Linked DNA regions of Homo sapiens: region 2 is linked to region 1. The links come from fine-mapping of genetic effects on gene expression. A gene starts in region 1. The other region holds a variant in brackets. All regions are shown on one strand. Distances are from middle to middle. Region 1 holds the start of UNC93A (unc-93 homolog A). Region 2 has its middle 22 kb from the start of UNC93A.

The links.
Region 2: its variant is fine-mapped to the expression of UNC93A in unexposed skin (GTEx, PIP 0.92).

The regions. Positions count from the first base shown.
Region 1 is chr6:167,288,832-167,294,205 of GRCh38, reverse strand. UNC93A (unc-93 homolog A) reads right to left here and starts at 2,891. Exons shown (of 8, transcript NM_018974.4): 1 at 2,630-2,891. The coding sequence starts at 2,716. RefSeq lists enhancers at 1-629, 5,291-5,374.
Region 2 is chr6:167,266,732-167,272,105 of GRCh38, reverse strand. It overlaps a transcript of UNC93A not described here. Among named protein-coding and RNA genes, the nearest start is that of UNC93A, 22 kb to the left of the region's middle. RefSeq lists an enhancer at 3,257-4,456. The variant T/C (reference allele first, on the strand shown) is at 2,739.

The DNA.
Region 1 (5,374 bases):
AACAGGACAGTGTGACAGGATGGGGCTGGAGACTCTGCCAGAACTCATCTGTGAGGAGCCTGCGTGCTCCCAGGGAATGTAAGGGGTCCTTCAGCCCATGGGGAGGCCCGAAGGATATGAAGCAGCTGAGTGCACATGAATGATTTCTTCCTTCACCAAATATCCATCGCCCGCCTCCGAGTGCCCGTCACTGTCTAAGGTTTGAGAATGGACCAGGGACGTGGCCCTCGTATCCTGGAAACTGCAGGCCGCCACCACTGGTGGAGACAACCCGGGCAGGCACACACCGCCACGAGGGTGCTGGGTGCCCCATCCAGACCTCAGCTCCAGGGCAGGGTGGGGAGAAGGAGGTGACCTCCAAGTTGAGAGCTGAATGAGAACTTGGAGGCCTGCAGCCAGAAAGGGTGAAAGGAGGTGGTGGCTACAGGGGGAGGTGCCACAAAAGAGCGTCCTTTGTCCTTGGACGAGGGGACCTAGTCCAGACCAGGGTGAGGACTCAGGAGAACTCTCTGGAATGAGGCCCTGTCTTCTCACTGGGGCTGCTGAGCTCTGAGGAGGGAGCCTGGGGATGCATGTGCCTTGTTGGGGCCTGAGAGCGAAGCCAACCCCATAGTAGCCTTGGGGTTCTTGGAGAGAGGTGGGCTCGGCTCCTCAGCATGCTGGGGCAAAACCAATCCTGAGTCACTTCTATCTGAACACTCTGTGTTGCCCATGCCAGTCCTGAGTAGCAGAGACAGCTGTCCCAGTTAGAGGGTTAAAGCACGTCCGCATGCTCAAGGTCAGCTGCCGACAATAGGCCCGGGTGGGGCCTCGAACCAGGGTGGAGCTGGAGTGGAGGGGACCCTTCCACAGTCCTGGGGCCCTGCAGAGAGGGAGGTCTGGCTCCCCTGCATCTCCAGTCTTTTGAGAAGGAAGGGCTGACATCATGAGACAGCAGCTCCCACTTCCACCAGCCCAGGAGGAGTGGGAAGTGCTGGCGGGGCGTGGGACAATCTACTCCCCAGGCAGCTGCTCACAGCTGCGGAGCTCATCCAGATGCCACCATGAGTGATTCCCCAATGAGGCACCCCCAAACTGGGGCTGAAGAGGCAAAGGGTTGTCTGCCCGCATTTGCCCACAGCCTTGGGTCCTGCCGTCACAGCCTGAGAGGAGGGACCCCTGGCAGCTCCCAGCCCCCTCCAGCCCCCTTCCTCTGGCTTCCAAGTCCAGAGGCCAATTTTCAGACAGTGGCTGAGCCACAGCGGATCCACCAGAACTGGTTCCTAGGAATGCTGACCCCAGGGGAGCTGTCGGTTCCTAGGAATGCTGACCCCAGGGGAGCTGCTGTGCCAGGAGGACAGCAGGGTCTCCTTCTGCAGGCAGGTGAGCTTTCTAAAGAGAAAGGGCTACTGACCAGTCCACATCCTTGAGACTCCCTCCTTCCAGAAAGTGCACACCAACCACATTCAACATGCACTCACCTCAACCCAACAGGCATTTCACTCACACCAGCATTCTGTGACAACAACACAAAGTTCTGGGCAAAGCAGGGACTCCAAAAGTAATGAACCATTGCGGCAAGAAAAGAGACTGTGTTCCCTTCCACTTGACTTTGAGAGTCACTGTTGGCTGCCATTTTATCCTCTGTAAGCCTGATCAGAAATAGAACCAGATAGGAGTTCAGCAAAAGGAAACATTACTTGAGAATTCAGGACTGAATTCCAGCTTCCTTGGCAACCCAGGAGTCCCAAGTGTTTGCACAACAACAGTGAGAGGAGAAACCTCGGATTCTGAGTTCCCAGGTGTGCTTTTCTGGTTCCATACTATGCACACAGTAGGTGCCCAATTCTTATTCTTCATTGACGAACCATGTAAGACCACACTAATTTGTCATCAGAAGCTCTGAAATGTTTTATGTGACCACACCAGGCCACAGGGTACAACACTGTGGCAATGAATAAGCCGGGGGAGTAACAATAGCCCTGCTTCCTGACCAGCCCTTGGAATTCCCTGGAATTCAGACTGGAATCCAGGTAAAGATCAGACTTGAAATGTAACCAGCTTGGGAAAATGTGTCAGGTCTATGTCTAGGTGCACATGATGAATGCTGCAGCCTTTCGGAGAATGCCGTTTGGCTTTTTCATGGGCTCACGGAACTATGGAGGAGAGCATGCCATAAGGAGTTCAAAGTATAGAGAGATCATGTTGTCAAAGTTCACAGTTTAGCTTAGAGTAGGCTTGGAATGTATAAGGTCTAGTGACATTTGATAAATTCACATGGCTGCCCCTAACCACAAAGCCAAGGGCATCCAATCAATCATAGAATTCACAATGACTTTTCCTGTGTCTCCTTTTAACCACCCAAAGGCAAAGAATGTCCCAACAAATCACAGTCCCAAGACCCCTGCTGTCCTTGTCCAAGAGCAACGTGCACCTCGCTGTTGTGCAATCCTATTGAGACGTGAGTGGGAACTGCTCACTGTAGGACTGCATCTGAGAACCACTGTTTGTTTTAGAGGATTTGGTACAGAGTGAAAAAGAAACACCAGGTGAATTAGATTTTTCAAATTTCCAATTCATTATTGTCTGTGACCACAGGGATTCTTGGAGGCCAAGAAGTTCAGGTAATTTGATGACCGGACACACATACCTGCAGGCTCTGCAGACCTCCATAGGCTGTAAAGAGAAGCAGGAACCCAAAGGAAACCACAAGGACGTTCCTTAGACTTCTGTCCATTGTGCTGGATGAAAAGATCAATCACCAGTGAACACGTAAATTTGTAGCTCCCTAAAAGAAACCAATTGAGGCATGGGAAAAACAATCAGTACCAAGAAGTCCCATTCTCTCTCTCATCTGAGCTAGAGGTGAAATGTTAGAGGTGTGTTAGTCATTAAGACTGTCACTCGTTAATGAACTTGGTTATCACTGACCCCATGAAGCATACGGGAGCTCTGTTACTCATTTACCTTCTCTGTGATCCACAATGTCCACTTTGTATGGGGCAAAAGATCATTACTCTTACCAGCTTCTAGTTAATTGCGCTTTTTTCCTATTAAATTCTAATAGACATGGTCCAGATGGTAAAGTGATATGTTTCACTTTTTATGTGTATATAGAATAGAACCTTCCACAGTAAGAGAAACTGTCAGAAGTTGTCAGTGGTGCAGAATGAGGACTTCAGTCTTAAAGAACAAAGCATAAATGTCAACTTCAAGACACATAGTTCAACTTCTGAAAAAGAGCTAACGTGATTGTAAGATCCTGGGGCCAAAGTCTTAGTATTGCAAAGACTGTACAGTTTCACAACACAGTACAGCAATTATTAAAAGAAAAAACAACTTACATGAGTATAGTACTTTACAATATGCAAAGAATTTCATGCATTATTTCATGTTACCAACAATAGTGCTATGCTAATGATCATTAGAAATCTTAGACCCATTATAAGACAGGAAACAGCTTCAGAAAAGTTAAATGATTTGGTATTTTGGTCTGGGGCAGTGTTGTCCAGTATGGTAGCCACTCGCCACATGTGACTATTGAGTTCTGAAATGTGGCAAGTGCAACTGATAAAATGAGTTCACAACTGCATCTCCTTTTAGTTAATTACAATTAAAATTTAACCACATGTGGCTAGAGACAACTGTATTAGACGGGGTAAGTCTGGAGCTTTAAGCAACTTACCACAAATGTCATAGCTAATAAGCAAGAAAAATTATTTTTATTCAATTATAAGTAAAACTTGATGTCTGCAGATTGTTTCCAAAGTTCTGTGAAGTCAGCCATTTCTGTCTAGATTAGATCTATAAGGCAAATCTCGCAGGTAAGTCTAGCATCCTGGCAACACTACTCAGGGAAGCTTGCCAGACCATCAGAAGATCAGGGCCAATGATAAATGGGGTAAAGTTCTTGTCACTTAATGTATTTCAGTGAAAATGAAAGTTTTATGAAAACAATAGCTTTTTATATTAACTAAACATGGACTATCATGCTTACATAGACATAAGAGCCACGCAGTCTAGCAAAGGGATTCTGAGCATGGAAACAGATGAGCTCCACGGGTTCACACCCTAATCCTGTAATTTGTTAGCTAGGTGATCTCAGGTGGGTCACTGAGTCACCGAACCTGTTTCCTCTTTAAAAAGGAGGGTTGCAAAAGTTCAAGACTTGGATAATTTTGAAAGCCCCTAGAACAGCACCCGATATATAGCAAAAATGTTAACTTCAAGATACATATATGGTTCAACTTCACCAATAAATGTTATCACCAATAAATGTTAATTGACTAAGATGATATTTTGACTTTCAGAGACAATACAAATTAGAATAATATGTAAAGAAATTAGCATAATGTGGACTTCTTCATACTAACCGTGTTATCGATCAATCAACTTGGACCTTATTTTTATTTTTTGGCAACACTTTAGTTTACTTCAGTTCTGGCCTCTCATTAGTTCCCATGGATGACCTGTATTTTGATATTAGAGGACCTTCCTGATGTTTTATTGCACTGTCTGCTGGTCTTTCTCCCTTGGTTGCTTCAACTCACCAGCCCCATCCTCTAGGACTCGCTCTCTGGCTCTGGGGGCTGTTTCCAGAGGCTGCTCTTCCCCTCCCCTTCACCAGCCTATGCCTTCTAAGGAGCTTCCCTTTGTGCACAAATAAACCTGGTCTGTTTCCATCCTTCCCAGCCACACCCTCCCTGTCCCTCCAGCACTTCTACTAGGATTGAATTTCTGAAACCATGGCTTCAGTTACGTCTGCTTTTTCTCTCTTTTCCTCCCAGTTCCTCCCCTTTATCTATGTTAAAAGGGATTTTTTTTAAATGAACAGTATATTTCACTCTCTGCCTTTTCTCTGTAGCAGAATAAAATGCTTCTCTTAGAGGAGATAATTCCCAGCACCCCTCAGTGTTCCTGTGACCAGGGCAGGTCTTAGACATGGTCCCCCAGTGGTCTCGTCATAAACAAAGGGACACTCTTATCTTACCCGACCCCTGAGGCTGCCTTCCCGCAGCCTACACATTCCTGCAGACATGGAGTTGCCTGAGGGAAGAGAGTGCAACCTCTAGAAACCCAGAGCTGGCTTGGCTCTCAGAGCTGGTTTTGGCGTTATGAGCTCTGTGTGTGCACTGGAGCCATGGCCTGGCCCAGGGCTGACCTGCCAAAGGCCAAAGACGGGTACGTGTAAAGGATTTAAAAGGTGTCAATAGCCACTTCAGTCCTTAAAATTAACATCTGGGCTCTATCAGCTTGAGAAAAGAGGTGGTTCTGTAGATCTGCTCGAATCTGCAGGTCACTCATTGGACGTTAAAATGACAGATGCCCTGGGTGATACAAAGCTCAGAGCACGCGTGTTCCGGAAAACCGAGACTTCACCAGCCACTAGATGGCA
Region 2 (5,374 bases), 22 kb after region 1:
GTGAAGCTCTCTCTCCTGCCCCTCTTTGCCTAAAAGCAGGACATAATTTAGTGAAGGTGTCCCCACTCCTGTCTCTACCAGGAAGGACAGAAGCCAATCACTGGGGCAAGTCTAGGCCTTATCAGCCTGGAGACAGCACTGGAGGAATCTACTCAGCAAACTTGACTACTAGGAACTAGCCCTTATCCTCCATTCATTTCCCATGTGTTTAGCTGGCTGCAGTTTGCTGCCCTAGAAGCCCAAAGGTCTTTTCCTTTGTCTTGTCACTCCTCTAAAATTTGTCATTATTTTGTTTAGAAGCTCTATCAGCCCAAGTTCTAATAAACCCTTGGAGTGACTCATGGCTGAGTGCTCCCATGTGTGTGCATGATGAGCATGTTAATAACCTTGTTTGTTTCTATTTTGTCAACCTGTCTTTTGCCATTCTAATTTATAGGACCTCAGCCAGAGAACCTAGGATGGGTAGAAGGAAAAGGAAACTTTTCCTCCCATATGTGTGTCCCACTTATGATAGATAAGTGGGGGCTGACGAGCCTGTAAACCAAAAATACAACTGCCCTGAGAGGCCACGCCACCTCCTTGAATCAGAAGTTTACAGACAGAAGGCAGGAAACAGAGGCAGCCACGGAGCCCATCCCACATCTCACCTGTGCTGTTTCCTGAATGGCCCTTTCATTAATCCTGGAGATGATGGCACGGAAGGGCAGGCAGAGGGCTGCAGCCTGGCTCCTTTCCTTCAGTCCTCCTGATGAGGTTCTCGCTCTTTCTTAACTCTGGCCCTCAGCAGAAGCACCTGGAGACCTTGCTAAACTCTGCACAGCTGAGCCCCGCCCAGAATTGCAATTCCCTCCCTTGCTGCCTAATGACTCCCAGGTGCTTTCCTTCAGGCCTCCTGTTGAGGTTCTCTGTCTTAAGCTCTGTCTTAACTCTGGCCCTCAGCAGAAGCACCTGGAGACCTTGCTAAAATCTGCACAGCTGAGCCCCGCCCAGAATCGCAATTCCCTCCCTTGCTGCCTAATGACTCCCAGGTGCCGCGACGCTGCCAGCCAGGGGAACACACTGCGGGAACCCATGCCTGGCACAATCCTTCCCATCCAGGCCTCCGCCCACGTGGCAGCCCATCCCTGCAACACCTGTATCTTCCTGGACAACTGAATTCAAATGCCCCTTTGTGTTAGTTTCTTGAGGTCGCCACAACAGGAACTTCTTGTCCCCCAGCCTGGAGGCCGGGAGTCTGCACCCACGGTGTCAGCCGGGCCAGGCTCCCTCTGCAGACTCCACAGCGGGAGGGCGCCAATGCCTTGCTCTTAGCTCTGGTGTTCGGGGAAACCCTCGTTTGTAGACGCGTCACCCCAACCTCTGCCTTCGTCCTCAAGTGGTCACCTTCTCCCCGTGCTCCCCTCTCCTCCCATGAGGACATTGGTCACATGGAACTCGAGGCTCACCCTGCTCTAGTTGACCCCAGCTCAACTTGATCAGTTCTGCAAGTGAGGGCTCGTTCACAGGCACCAGGTTAGGGCTTCAACATACCTTTCCGGGGGATGCAACTCAACCCACAACCCTTTCTCCTCCGAAGGTCTGTCCATGTCCCCCACACCGGAAGGCTCCCCTTTCCCCTAACCCCCCATGTCCTTCGTGATGGGGCCCTGCTCCCTCATCCCACTGAAAGCTCCCTGACAACAGCACTCATCTTGTTCACCTCTGGGCACCCCACAGCCCTCCGCATTGCACCCTCTGCTCATAGTTAAGGCCAGTTTGTTAAGAGATGGCATCGGTGATTATGACGCCTGGCTGACTTGTGACAAGTTCTGTCTTAAGAACTTAACACAGAGCTTCACAACAGCCATTAACAGGTATGTGCCATCATTATCCCTGTCTTAGACATGAAAAAAGAGAGATGCAAAATGATTAGGTGACTTTGAGAGCCCATGGTCAATAGATGCCACAGCCAGACATGAACACAGATGGATGGGTCCTCCAGAGTGTGCCAGATATAAACGCGGTGGGGTGGGGACTCCGGACCATGTGAACGCCCCCCCCCCACCCCCACCCCCACCCCGTGCAGCCTCTGGGCAGTCCTTTGTTCTGACTTCTCAGCTTTCTACCAGGGCCAGCTGCAGAATTTAGGGGCCCAGGACAAAACACAAATGCAGGACCCCCTGTACAAAAAGCAGGAAAAAGTGCCATTATTGGCCGGGCCCAGTGGCTCACGCCTGTAATCCCAGCACTTTGGGAGACCGAGGCAGGTGGATCACGAGGTCAGGAGATAGAGACCATCCTGGCCAACACGGTGAAACCCTGTCTCTACTAAAAACACACACACACACAAAAAAAAGCCAGGCGTGGTGGTGGGCGCCTGTAGTCCCAGCTACTGGGAAGGCTGAGGCAGGAGAATGGTGTGAACCCAGGAGGCGGAGCTGGCAGTGAGCCGAGATTGTGCCACTGCACTCTAGCCTGGGCGACAGAGCAAGACTCTGTCTCAAAAATAAATAAATAAATAAAAATTTTTTAAAAAGTGCCATTATGGTAGTAAAATATAAAGCTTTTTCCTTCCCTCTGCAGTCTCTTTCCCTTCTTTTCATTGGGTTCCTTTATTTGCCACATTGTCATTCTAAGAAGGAAAATTAAAAATTATTAGTCAACTTATTTTGTGCAATGCCAATTTCAAATGCAAATATAGGACCATTTATCTCATTTGCAAAATCACCAAAATTTCTCAATTTGCAGTTCGTAGCTTG[T/C]ACATGTTTTCTTCTTATCAGAACAGTGAGGCACTACACAAAACTCCCTCAACTGTATCCACTACAGCTCCTGATCCAAGACTGGGTCTCTGGGCGTCGCTCACCGTGGTTCCCTCAGCACAGAGCCATGATGTTCTGGCCAGCACGGGCGCCTCACTCGCCCATGCAAGCCCTGCACAGCCTGCCTGTTCCGCCGGTCTCCAGCCACGCTCATCTCGCTGGGTTTTCCCAGCCTGCTCACCTCTCAGCCTCGCTACGGCTGCCCACACATTCCTCTCTCAGTCACACATTGGGGCCCCTCCAGCTGCTTCGTCCTGGTCCCAGTGGGCCACCAGGTAAAAGTGTCACACTTGTAAATGTTCAATTGATGCAAATTCACATTTAAAGTTTGTTTACTCTGTCCCTGCACAAAAGCTTTATTTTAAAGTTACACGATTAGACAGAAGTGGACCTTTGTCCTGGCTGAGGCCCTCCCATGGGTACCCACCCCCTGAATGGCTGATGCAAGACGGCAACAGTGTTGACTGAAACCAGGCAGTTTCAGGCCACAGCCAACTGGGGACACAGCAATGAGTGATGAACGGTCGGGGTCCTCTATGCCGCGCCATGAAACCTGAACTAACCAGACAAGTTTATCCAGAGCTGGACACGACCCTTTGGGGGCCATGCAGCTTTATTATTATTATTACCATTATTATTATTATTATTACTATTTTGTAGAAATAGGTCCTCACTATGCTGCCTAGGCCAGTCTCCAACTCCTGAGCTAAAGTGAGCCTCACTCCTTGGCCTCCCAAAGTGCTGGATTGACAGGCAGGAACCACTGTGCCCAGCCCCCACACACATTTTTTAGTCATCACTGTTGGGGTTTGGTCCTGGGTGTGTTGCTGGGCCTGACGGGAAGTTCCTCAACAGGTTCCTGATGTGAAACCCCGTGTTTCTCCCCTGAAAGGGGGCATCCAGTTTCTGTGTTGCTCTAATCTCTGAGACAGACCTCTGCGTTTCTTCCCTTCTGCTATCACCTTGTTGAAGAGGGTCCTGCTCTGAGGGCTGCCAGAGGTGCCTGGGCCTGCGGAGATGCTTTTTCTTGGAAGCAAAGGCTGTGTGCAGCCATTCTGGCCACCGTCCCTGGTAGGAGTCCTCCCCATGCTTCTGGGAGCCGGGGCCACTGCTTGCCTCTGACTGAACACGCACTGGCAGAGGCCTAGAATGATGAGCTCTTACAGTGTGACTGCAGTCCGGGTCCAGCCAGGGAAAAGCTTCATCCTAATTATGACTGTGGGACTCAGGCATGTCTGTTGTTAGGTGGAGGCTTGATCGACAGGCTCAGCCGCCCTGGTGTTCTGACTCTTGTTCCACTCACTGCACAAAATGAAGCTGGCGGAATATTGCTACAAAAGAATGATCGTGGCAGGAGGCGGGGTAGAGCAATGTCAGGTCACGGTGCGTCTTGCACCGAAATATTAAGGCAGTTGTAATGATCTTTGTCTCACAGAAATGAACAGAGTGATGAAGGAGGCTCAGAGAAAGGCAGCTGAGAAGAGCAACAAGGTAGAAAGGCTGACTTAAAGTAGAGAAATAAAAATTCATCCAGCACCTCCCAAGGTCGGACATTGGTCAAGACACGCCCAAATAGTTCAGGTCATTTAACTTTGCTCAAATTCCTCAAGGCAGTTATCACGACTCCTCCTGCTTTAGAGGTGAGAATGCCAAGGCTCCTGAGGGCTGAGTAAGGAGCCCTGGTTTGTTTGAGTGCAGGTAACACAACAGGTGTTAAAGCCCAATCTTCAGGGTCTTAATCCAACAGAAGTTAACTTTCGCTTAACTTCCCATCCTGTCCGCATAAAAGGGCTTCAAGTCCTCAGAAGGTTCTGGATTCAGCCTGCATGGAACAAAGGGCCCCTCTGCTCATTTCCATTGCTGAGCCTGACAGGAGAGGCTGGGATCGGAGTTCACCTTGAACCTAGGGTGGAAGGGAAGTGCATTTTGTGAACACATAGCACCCAGGCCAGGCACCCAAAGCCACACAGCTGCAACAGCAGCCTACAGTCCGACGCGGGTCAGGCAACGGAGTCCAAGCTCACGTGTTCTCTGACTTGAGTTTTCTGAACCTCAGAGTCCTCTCCTATAGAATGGAGAAAACGTCTCCTTCACAGGATTGCTGCGAGGATGAGCAGAGAAAATGCCTGCAGAGGACATTCCTGGATGCTTAGTTATGGACAGGGCACCAGGAGAAAGGGTGATGCTGGAGTCTCTCTTTAGTTCTTAGGGATCATCAACAAAGAGGGTGTCTCCTGAATCAAAGATCACAGCAGAGTGTGTCCGAGAGGCCGCCTCTCACCTCCCTCCCTGGCCTCGCACACGCAGTCGGGACTGGACTTCTGATGGCAATTCAGTGACGCACAATCGAAAACCAGCAGCGCGGAACAGGAGATGGGAGCAAACTAAGCTACCGTTTCACTAACTTCACAGAGGAGCCTGACACAGAAAAATGTATACATTGTTTGCCTTAAAGTGAACAATAGGGAATAGCTATCGTATCTTCAAAGCAGCTTTCCAAGATCAAATCCGTCGCATCCGGAATGCGTTTCTTTGACCTTGGAACCTCCAGGAGTGGCCAGGCTCCCCCACAGATC